4 separate regions of the Homo sapiens genome follow, and all the other regions are linked to region 3. Evidence: fine-mapped QTL for protein levels in blood plasma. A gene starts in region 3. Each other region holds a variant in brackets. All regions are shown on one strand. Distances are from middle to middle.

Region 1 (2,682 bases), 2.2 Mb after region 3:
ACACAGTGTTGATGAATGTGCAGTTGCGGAAAAACGTGTTGCTGGATGTGACATCCTCAAAATAACACTCTTCAAACAGGGAATCCTCAAAGGACACTGACTTGAGCCGCAGCCCAATGAACCTGTAAGGCCAGGATGGTGAAAGACACTCCCCCGTCATCCTCATGCCCCCTCCAAGACTCACTCTTTAGCGAAGTAATGGGAAGCTGGGCATTGAGAAGAAACCACAAGTGTTTGCCCCCCAAATGTCTTGTCTTGAACCCCTAGACTCATAAAAGAGACGAGGTAGAAGGAACAGGGAAGAAGTGAAGTTTAAAAGTCCCCACATACTTGTCATTGAAGTACTGCCCGCCTCGGTGGATCTGATTCTCCAACGTGAAGTTAAAAGTTACATGCTCTACGCGCTCCCCGGGGAACACTTTGGTGCGGGATGCGTAGTCCACTGCCTGGAGATGGCGGATCATGTCAGGAAACCAGACGGTCAGGCCATAGTAGCTGAAGAGTCAAGGACAATGGAAACAGACAACAGGGCTTCAGACAAGGCTCAGAGATTAGAATCAGGCAGAGGAGAAAACGGAAATGTGTATCATCTCAGAACAAGGGAGAAATGGAGTCAACCTCTGTTAGGACCTTGCTCCTCTCCAGCCTCACCAGCTTCTCCCTGCTCCTCCCTTCAACAGTTGCTGCGCTCCTGGGGGACTTCAGGGTCTCGCACAGCAGCCACTATACTTTTTCTTACCTCCCAAGCATTTGCTTTTCCCTCTGCCAAAAACACTCTTCTCCACCCCAGCCACCCCCACTCCACCTGTCTGACTCCCATTCACCTTTGAGGACTTAGGTCCCCACCCCAGCCCAAGCCCCAAGTGCTCCCACTGCCCTTCCCCCACCCTTCTCTCATCACCCTGCTTCATAGCAAGTTTCGTCTCACTTCTTTTTTTTCTTTTGAGACGGAGTCTCGCTCTGTCACCCAGGCTGGAGTGCAGTGGCGCGATCTCGACTCACTGCAACCTCTGCCTCCCGGATTCACACCATTCTCCTGCCTCAGCCTCCAGAGTAGCTGGGACTACAGGCGCCCACCACCATGCCCGGCTAATTTTTTGTATGTTAGTAGAGACGGGGTTTCACCGTAGCCAGGATGGTCTCGATCTCCTAACCTCATGATCCGCCCGCCTCGTCCTCCCAAAGTGCTGGGATTACGAGCCTCATCGTCCTGCTTCTTAACCAAAACATAAACTCCAGGAGGACCTTGGACCACATCTGTTTCATCCCAGCACAGAATAGAAACTGAATCCTGGTCAGCCTACAGTACAAGTTTGTTGAGTGAACTAGCGAAGTAGAGGAGCTGGCTGCAGGATCAGAGGGGGTCTGCATGGCACCTTCCCTCATCGCTTGTCCCCTGCATCTCCATTCTCCCCACCTCTCTCCCAGCCCACACACCACCACAACCACCACACATCACCCAGCCCACCCATCTCCTCACCTGAATGACATGGTGAACCACACACCCATCATCATCAGAGTGATGCGCCGATATTCGGGACCAAAACAGGAGAGAAAATTCCCCCAAACCTACAGGGGACCAGACAAAGTCAGACCTTG[A/G]CTATACTAAGTTCTAGCACCCATAGATCCCCACTTTTCTGCCCTCCCACCTCCCTTCAGCTCACCCATCACCCACACACATAGACTTCAGTCCTGCCTTCTTCTCCACTTCCCCCACTCCCTTCTATCTACCACCCCGTCCACCATTACCTGCCCCCCTAGGCTCAAGGCCCGGACCCCCCAGCGCTGGTACCAGGTCCCTGTGTCCGACTGGATCTCAATCAATTCATCCTCCTGATGAATCGTCTTAATGTGGGTTACCTGGGGTCAAGAGAAGGGGTGGGCAGTCACACACTCTGTGTTTCCCAACATCGGCCAGGCGCCTCAGTTTCCCCTGCATTAGCAAAATGGGAGGCAGGAGGTGGATATGATACCCTGAAAATCTCCTTACGGTAGAGTGTGGTCTGAGGTGGGGGGTACTCAGAGAGGGGCCAGGTAGGGGCTGGGGCTGCAGGGCGTGGAGGTCTGAGTCGGGAGGGCTGTGGCTTACTGAGAACACTCGCTCAGGATGTCCTTTGGCTCGCATGTTGGTATCATGGACCTGCTTCAGCACCATCCAGGCCTCATCATGCTTTCCATTCTAGAGCCAAAGACACAATCCCCACATCCAAGTCAGCCCCTACCTGACCCAGAGTTATAGACCCCCTCCCTCCCACCTGGCTTCTGTAGTCACAGGACACTAAATGGTTCCCAGCCCTCAACCCCACCACCAAGCCCTGACCTATGGGCATGCACTCACCACTCTGAAAGAGCCCCAAGCTGAGGTATAGCAAGACAATCAGACTTGGGCAAGAGCTGCGGGTTGGGGGTGGGGAGTGTTGTCCAGGGGAAAAAGGCAAGCACAGGTCTTGGGAATTCCATAGTACAGAGGAATGTAAAAACCAAAGGTAAGGGAAATGATGGGCAAGCATGTAGTCAAAGACCTAATCCTGCTGGGGTTAGGAGGGGAAGGTATAGGGGGTGGGAATGTCTCTTGAGCTGTAAATGCAGGACAGGGCCAAGGCCCTTCCCTGCAAAATCTTAAGTCATCCATGGGTAAAGAGGTCCCCTGGTTTCTCCACCCAAGAACCCCTCAGGGACACA
Region 2 (2,670 bases), 3.9 Mb after region 3:
GTCCTACTCCCTGCTCTTTGTTTTTAAGCGACGAGTGTCTTGCTATGTTGCCGGAGCTGCAGTACAGTGGCTCTTCACGGGTGCAATCATAGCACACCACAGCCTTGAACTCCTGGCCTCAATCCTTCTGCCTCAGCCTCCTGAGTAGCTGGGACTTCAGATGCACACCACCTATAGCTTCTCTTCCATGCTCTTGCTCTCTCTTTTGGAATAGTTGAGGGAAAAGGGTATGAGATAAATAAAGGAGAGGGATGTTTGGGCTGCTTTTTGCTTGCTTGCTATATAGAAAAGAGATCCGGAAAGAAGTCTAAGACCAAGTTGGCACTGGCAGTGTTAATGAATCATTAACCTCTACTATTTTTTTTCTTTCTTCCTTTCTTTTCTTTTCTCTTTTCTTTTCTCTTTTTTTGAGACAGGGCCTTGCTCTGTTGCCCAGGCTGGAGTGCAATGGCATGATCTCAGCTCACTGCAACCTCCACCTCCTGGTTTCAGTAGATCCTCCTACCTCAGTCTCCCCAAGTAGCTGAGACTGTAGGCACATGCCACCACACCTGACTAAAATTTTTTTTTTTTTTTTCTGTTGGTAGAGATGGGATTTCACCATGTTGCCCAGGCTAGTCTCGAACTCCTGGGCTCAAGCAGTCTGCCCACCTTGGCCTCCCAAAGGCTTGGGATTACAGGCATGAGCCACTACATCTGGCCCCTTTTACTCTTTCTTGATGTTTTTGCTCTTTGTCTGGTGGGGCAGAAAAAATTACTAAGAGAAAATAATGGACAAGGAATTCAGATGGTCTCCATCATAGGTTAGTTTGAAGCTAACCAGAGACCTCTAGAGCAAGGGAGAGACAGAAATTCCCTTTTATTCCTTTTTTCTAGGCTGAACTTGAGACTTATTTTACTCCAGAGCTGGGAATGAAGTAATCATTGCCCAGATCTGATCTTGGAGACATTCCTGGGCCCTTAAGGGAGGGGAGGAGATGGTGAACAGTCGGGACACAGGCCTTGTCCTGGATTCCTCTTCTCTGAGCCAACTTGCAGACAGAATTTATGGCTCTGGACAACCCCCAGGAATCTGTCATATATTCACACCACTGAATGGGTGCTCAATTCATGTGCAAAGTGAGTCAATAAATAAATGAACAGATGTTTCTTCCGGAGTCAGAATGTAGACAGTTGAACTGATTAGAGATCCTACTGGGAGTGAGGGCCCTGGGACTCTGTTGGTGTTTCCCCACTAGCCAGGCAGTGTGCCTTAGCGTATCACATGTGGACATGGACATAGGGCCAATACACTCTCTGGGATGTTTTTATTGTTGGAGGCAGATGCAGCAGGTACAAGGAGCCAGTGTTTTTCAGAACTGCAGACCATAACCAGTAGTGGGTCTGAGATCAACTTAGTAGGTCAGACCAGTATTAAAAAAGAAATAGAATTAACACTCTTAGAGTGTTAGTGAGGATAGACATTTTTGGTAGAACTTTTATTTCAGTTATATATATATGTGTGTGTGTGTGTGTGTGTGTGTGTGTGTGTATTATATATGTACGTGTTTGTTTACTGGGTCTTGATGTGAAATATGTTTTTGAGATTGAAAAGTTTTGCAAGCCACTGTGGTAAGTTATATTGGCAAATAAAAGAACAAATAAACACCAAACTCCTTTTTACTAGATATTTCCATTAACTTCCTTTGGTTATAAACAACAGAGAATGACTCCAGCTAAACTAAGCAGATGAGGAAATTATTAGAAGGAAATAGAGCAGTTCACAGAATTTAAGGGAAAGCTTAGAAAGCCCTAACCAAGGATGTTCTGGGGCCTGGGTAAGTGGAACGATGGAGGCTTACTACTATTGGTGAATTGGTTCCAGCTGTTTTAGGTCTCTGCACCATTATGCTCAAGATTCCAGGGAGAGAGTACCATTGTCCCTTGGCCCCCAGTTGTCCAGAGCAGGACAGGGTTCCTTGACTGATAG[G/GC]CCCCCCCCAGATTACAGTGATGGAAGGAGATTCTCCAAAGACCCAAGTGTTGTTATCAGTGGAGGGGAATGGAAGCTGCGTGGCAAAAGAACAGATGTCTATGACATTAGACTTTACCATGGATGATCTCTGATTTCATTTCCCTCCTTCCCTCTCTTCCTTCTTTCCATCCTTCTTTAAATCACTTTTTTTTTTTTTTTTGAGACAGGGTCTCACTCTGTTGCCCAGGCTGGAGTGCAGTGGTGTGATCATAGCTCACTGCAGCCTTGAACTCCTGGACTCAAGGGATCCTTTCACCTCAGCCTCCCAAGTAGCTGGGACCACAGGCATACTCAACATGTTTAGCTAATTTTTCATTTTTCGTAGATATGGGTTCTCACTATGTTGCCCAGGCTAGTCTTGAACTCCTGGTTTAAAGTAATCTTCCTGCCTCGGCCTCTCAAAGTGCTGGGATTACAGGTGTGCACCACTGCACCTGGCCTTAAATCACCTTTTTTTTGGGCGGTGGGAGGGGGAGGATGGAGTCTCACTCTGTCACCCAGGCTGGGGTGCGGTGGCACAATCTTGGCTCACTGCAACCTCCATCTCCCTGGTTCAAGCAATTCTCCTGCCTCAGCCTCCCGAGTAGCTGGGATTACAGGCATGGGCCACCATGCCCAGCTAATTTTTGTACTTTTACTAGAGATGGGGTTTCATCATG
Region 3 (2,682 bases):
GAGTTTGGGGATTTCAGGTTGCCTGTTCCTCTTCACTAGGCCTTTCTGCTATAAAAAGTCACATCCAGGAAAGATAATCATTTTTTTTTAAACTATTTGTGCTTTAGTCATAATTATCCTGACAAAACCAGACAGATTTTTAAAACATTACTGCCACAGACTAGCCCATTTTAAATTTGTTCCGACCTCAGATCCCTCCCACTATAGGTTTAGTAACCTTAAATAGAAAAGGAGAACCCTAGAATACAACACTTGTTACAAAAAAAAACTTCAGGAGATCTCAAATGGCCTCCAGCAAACCCTGAGAAAAAGCAGTTATAAAGTTTGTTTCCAAAGGCAACGACCTCTTATCCACTGTAATCTCAGTTAAGAGTGGTTCCTATCACTAAAGTCCCTTCAGCCCTTCAGCTCTGACAAACCACCTTCAAAATGGTCACACAGAAGTGCACTGCACCCTTGTATTCAAGTTCACCTAGACCCTTAATAGAAATGCTGACCTGGGGCACTACTCCACACCTGCTGAATCAGAATCTGCAACGTAGCAGGATCCCCAGGCGACTCCCATGCGTCTTAAGCAGCGCTTACTGATGGCTGCGCCATCAGGGCAAAACTGGAAGTTCCGGGGCTGTCCTAACCCCAGCAGGTCCTTTGCTCAAGAGCCTGGGGAGTCACTGGCTACTGCTGTTTTCCCTTCTTCTGGACCCAACCCGAGCCCCGCTCCGCGCGAGTAAAGCTCTGAAGATGTGTGTCAGGGCGAGACTCCTGGCCTGGCACACGGTCCTCGCCCCACCAGCCCCAGCCCGGGCCGACCTCTCACCTGCTCCTCCAGCGGGAGCGGCTTGAGAGGACTCCGAGCCCCGTGTCGAAACACGACCTGCACCATTTTCAACTTCAGCAGGCTGCGGTCGACCGGACACTGGCCATCGGCCTCCTGCAGCTCGGCCAGGGCCACCCGCCGCTGGTGCAGGCAGTACGCCAGCGAGGTCAGGACGCCCACTGGGGTCCACAAGCGCATGCTGAACACACCAGTGATCATGGTGGTAGGCCCTCGCTGCCCTCCGGGTTGAGGCTGCAGGAGGCAAACACAAGTCTTCTGCGGGCGCCGGGGCTCAGCGGGCGCCCCCAAGTCCGCGGGAACCTGCGGATGCGTACATCCAGCCCTTCAGCAAGCAGGGACCGCTGTGCCTCCCGGCCCTGAGGGAGACCCCGAGTGGGAACGGGGGAGAGAACAAGAGGTGGCAGCAGCGAAGAGTCCCTGGGAGTTTTAACCCGGGTCGGGGTTGGTCGCTCCTGCTGCACACCGGGCCGGGGGAGATCGGATCCTTATCTTTTGCCCGACGAGGAACATTAAACTTGTATTTCAAGTTTGGCCTCCAGCACTCTTGAAGGAACAGGAGCCGGCCCTGAGTTCCCTGGCGGCAGCGGCTCCACCAGCAAGGACTACTCGATTCCACTTTTCTATAAGCAAGCTCCTACCCACCTCCTCACCTACTCAGGGACCCGTCCCAAGTGGACCCGCGCACAGGAGCACGGGAAAACGAGTCCTGTGGTGACACCTCGCCTGGAGACTCAGAGCTGCGGAAACTACAACTCCCACAAGGCTGCGCGTACCGCGGCTCCCAAGAAGTGGCTTGTACCCGCCCCCCTCGCCTGCGGGCCTCGCCCCTCCGGCCCAGCCAGCCGTTTTCCAGGCGTGGATGGCCCACGGACGTGCCTGGTCCGGCAGTGGAGTGGTAGTGAATCTGTCGGGCCATGGAGTTTGCCAGGCAGGAGGATCGCGAGCGCAGGAGTAGAACTGGGTGGTGGAGGGGAGTAGTTTGAGTCTAGTTTTGAATGTAGAAGACTTCCTTCCAGTCCTGGAAGCCTGGTTGCTGCAGCGAGGAGCTGAGACACCTGCCGAGTGATTGCCATTTGCGAAACACAGCACTAGGTGCTTTATATTTAGTCATTTACTACTCCCTTCTCTGTTTTTAAAAAAATTCTCAAGCTTAAGTCATTGTAATCATGTAGAACTTTCAGGTCACTGATGTGTTTACTTCCATCCAGAATACTTCTTGTGGAAAAAGCCAGGCCTTGCCTGTGGGTGTCCCAGTGATTAAGAACCTAAGAGGCGCCATGGCTCACGCCTGTAATCCCAGCACTTTGGGAGGCCGAGGCGGGTAGATCATGAGGTCAGGAGATCGAGACCATCCTGGCTAACACGGTGAAACCACGTCTCTACTAAAAATACAAAAAAAAAAAAAAAAAAAAATTAGCCAGGCGTGGTGGCGGGCACCTGTAGTCCCAGCTACTCAGGAGGCTGAGGCAGGAGAATGGCGTGAACCCGGGAGGCGGAGCTTGCAGTGAGCCGAGATCGCGCCACACGACTCCAGCTTGGGCAACAGCGCAAGACTCCGTCTACAAAAAAAAAACAAAAAAAAACCTAAGAACACAGAACAATGCCAGCCTTACCACCTGCTAGTCTGGTTTCTGTTGATATACAGGTATCCCAAGCCTGTGTTTCCAGATCTTTGCAACAGGACACAATCTGGGACCCACTATGTGTCTATCTCCAAAGATCAAACTGGGCCAGATGTAAAGACAACATACTTACAGAGCATGGCTCCTGGCCTGAGAACAAATTCTGTTCACCAAGCTGGAAGGTTCTGAGTGCTCCCCTCCCTGATGCAGGGAGGAGGGTCA
Region 4 (2,682 bases), 2.3 Mb after region 3:
AACATGTTGGTTGCTTAACCAATGTCCATCCTCCTTCTTCCTCCATGCCTATAGAACCTTGATTAGGTTCAAGTAACCAGCCTGCTGTACATGGCTTCAGGGGAGATTGGCCTCAGTAGAGGGGGCGGGGGCTGAGTGGGAGGAACACGGGTGAAACACTAATGGATCATGGGGCTCCCTTCCCCTTGCCAGTGCTTGATCTAGGCATGTGATAGAGTTCTGACCAATTCGAGATGTGAGAAAATCCGCTGGAGGCTTTTGGGAAAGTCTTCTTTGCTCTTACAAAGAGATGAAAAGAAAGAATAAATTATTTTCCTCTGCTGCTGAAAGTTGTTGGATTTGGAAATGTTGTGCTGGTCAGAGGCCAGACTGACATACTGAGGATGACAGAGCAAAAATATTAAAAGAATCTGGGTCTTTGGTGCCCTGCTGAATTAACCTATCCCAGAGTGGTCCAACTTGAAATTCTTGTTATATGGGATAAATGCATCTTTCTTATTTTTTGAGCCATTTCAAATTTAGTCTTTCTATTGCTTGTAACCAAAATAATCCCAACGAGTAAAATGTCATCAACAATACCTCAGTGTCAATGGATAAACTGAAAATTCCTTAATCTCCTTTGTAAGAGGGAACCCAGCCTGGTCTTAACTCCATTTCTACATTTCCATTTCTACATTTGTGTTCTACTTCCTTGACCACCAGTGGTGTGCTAGTAAATATTAACAACCGGTTCTCCAGGGTGAAAAAGCCCTGATTTGTAACATTTACTAATTTTCTTTCTCTTTTCTTTTTCTTTTTTTTTTTTTTTTTTTGAGACAGAGTCTCGCTTTTGTCGCCAAGGCTGGAGTGCAGTGGCACAATCCTGGCTCACTGCAACCTCTGCCTCCCGGGTTCAAACTTCTCCTGCCCCAGCCTCCTGAGTAGCTGGGATTAGAGGCACCCACCACCACGCCTGGCTAATTTTGTATTTTTAGTAGACACGGGGTTTCACCATGTTGACCAGGCTGGTCTTGAACTCCTGACCTCAGGTGATCCACCCGCCTTGGCCTCCCAAAGTGCTGAGATTACAGGAGTAAGCCACCATGCCCAGCCAGCAGTTACTAATTTTCATGGTGCAAATATTTCTACCACTGATAAGTTCATGCTACCAATGTGATGTTGCTGAACAAGGAGCTGGGAAATGTGCAGTCGGCTCTAGCAAGTCAGTAAGAGACAGCTTGAGCTAACTCCAGCAAACCACCATGTTACCACCCAACTGTCTCCCCTGTCTCTAAGTTTTCTCTCTGGAGAGAGTTCAAGGCCCAATCTGTATCACCTCCTTTTAAAGTCTTTGTGTTAAATCCTAAACTATAAATGTGTTTATCAGTCAACTGGAATTTAGCAATTGCCTTGAATTGTTAATTTTCACAAGTATTTGCTCATAAGTGAACCGCTTAATCAATTAATGAAAAATACTTAGCAATAATAAAAATGTCAAAAGAGAGGAGTTTAGTGACACCATCTTACCTTCCTGCACTCCCTAAAGTGTTCCTAGGATTAGGCATTAGGAGAACTCCTAAGAAGAAAATCCCTGCCTCC[A/T]GGCCCTAAAATCACTGGAGGTGCTTTATTGTAAATAAGATTTATCAGCTCCCAATTATTGCAAGTAACAGTTTCCCAGGAGAGCTGGGTTAAGAGATTAAAAAAGGGCCCTTGGCAAGATTGGGTGTGTTTCTAGTATGGTCCTGACAAATCCCCTGAGGATGTAAGAATGGGCTTCTAAGGCCATTACAGGCCTAGCAACAAGTAGGTAGAGAAAAGAAGCCAGTTCCTTAGGCTATGAGGAGAGCAAGTGCTACCTTACCTAATTGGAATGCAGGTCAGGTGGGTCAGCTTAATCTCCACCTCACAGGTGACACACCCCAGGCTTGGAGGAAGCATGTACTTAAGACTACCAACACTTTAGCTCAGGCAATGAGGAGAGGCCTGGGAATGGAATGACAAAGTCACTCTGCCCCTGACTAGGTCAGCACTAGGAGGGAGGCCAAACTCAGGCTACTGGAAACTGACAGAGCATTCAGGGGATAGAAGATTGACACTACATCAGGCTCTGGTTATTGCTTTGGGGCATTTACTTGACACTGTCATTAACTCCCCTTTTTTCTTTGTGACTAATGGCCCAGGTTGACCTCAACAGGTACCACATACTAAGAACATTTCCTAAATTATAAAGACATGCTTTTTCTCCCCACATCAGGGAGCTTTGGGGTTCAGTGACTATATCTAATTGGCATCTACTAGAATCTCTCACTGACGTGCCCTCCATTTCCATATTACTGTCCTGATCAGCACTGTGGCTGTTCCCATGTTGCTTATGGTCTATGGACGAGCCTGCAAAGCATAGCAACAACCATAGAGATGTCAATGGAAGTCATTATTTTCAGTTGGAAAAAAATTTAGAATTGAAAAGTGTCACCATTACGTAGGTAACCTTCCTAGTTTAAAAAGAGATAAAATCCTGAGGTCCAAAGAAATTAGTGAAACAAGACCAAAACCTACGAAGGGATCCATGGATACGAGTAAAGTACTCTAGAAGCACCCAAGGGAAAAATATAAGAACTGAGGCACGTTTAAAAATAAAACACTGCCTATAGCAGGAAAGAGGAAGGGAAACTGAGGGGCCAAATAATGAAACTGGGCAGAAAG

Which allele goes with the higher level. Alleles are on the strand shown, and positions count from the first base shown. The strength of an association depends on the size of the effect and on how common the allele is.
With allele A in place of G in region 1, the plasma level of the protein whose gene starts at base 1,512 in region 3 is higher (moderate association).
For the plasma level of the protein whose gene starts at base 1,512 in region 3, GC is the low allele of the variant in region 2 and G is the other (weak association).
For the plasma level of the protein whose gene starts at base 1,512 in region 3, allele A in region 4 goes with a higher level than allele T (weak association).

The links. PIP is the posterior inclusion probability: the model's chance that the variant is causal. The UK Biobank Pharma Proteomics Project read protein levels with antibody pairs (Olink). The fine-mapping took linkage between variants from a reference panel, not from the people measured, so its PIPs are less certain.
Region 1: its variant is fine-mapped to the plasma level of the ACP6 protein (UK Biobank, PIP above 0.99).
Region 2: its variant is fine-mapped to the plasma level of the ACP6 protein (UK Biobank, PIP 0.98).
Region 4: its variant is fine-mapped to the plasma level of the ACP6 protein (UK Biobank, PIP above 0.99).

The regions. Positions count from the first base shown.
Region 1 is chr1:149,907,712-149,910,393 of GRCh38, forward strand. It overlaps SV2A (synaptic vesicle glycoprotein 2A), which reads right to left. Exons shown (of 13, transcript NM_014849.5): 6 at 2,090-2,179; 7 at 1,750-1,860; 8 at 1,481-1,569; 9 at 331-495; 10 at 1-122. Among named protein-coding and RNA genes, the nearest start is that of SV2A, 8.8 kb to the right of the region's middle. RefSeq lists an enhancer at 2,466-2,682. The variant A/G (reference allele first, on the strand shown) is at 1,600.
Region 2 is chr1:151,541,830-151,544,499 of GRCh38, forward strand. All of the region lies in intron 1 of TUFT1 (tuftelin 1), which reads left to right. Among named protein-coding and RNA genes, the nearest start is that of MIR554, 2.6 kb to the right of the region's middle. The variant G/GC (reference allele first, on the strand shown) is at 1,970.
Region 3 is chr1:147,669,013-147,671,694 of GRCh38, forward strand. It overlaps ACP6 (acid phosphatase 6, lysophosphatidic), which reads right to left and starts at 1,512. Exons shown (of 10, transcript NM_016361.5): 1 at 818-1,512. The coding sequence starts at 1,036. RefSeq lists enhancers at 360-1,303, 515-574, 1,215-1,464, 1,905-1,974.
Region 4 is chr1:150,015,660-150,018,341 of GRCh38, forward strand. The region is part of intron 1 of LOC124904413 (a long non-coding RNA gene); the gene reads left to right. It also overlaps a transcript of OTUD7B not described here. Among named protein-coding and RNA genes, the nearest start is that of OTUD7B, 6.3 kb to the left of the region's middle. RefSeq lists enhancers at 1,472-2,131, 2,132-2,682. The variant A/T (reference allele first, on the strand shown) is at 1,579.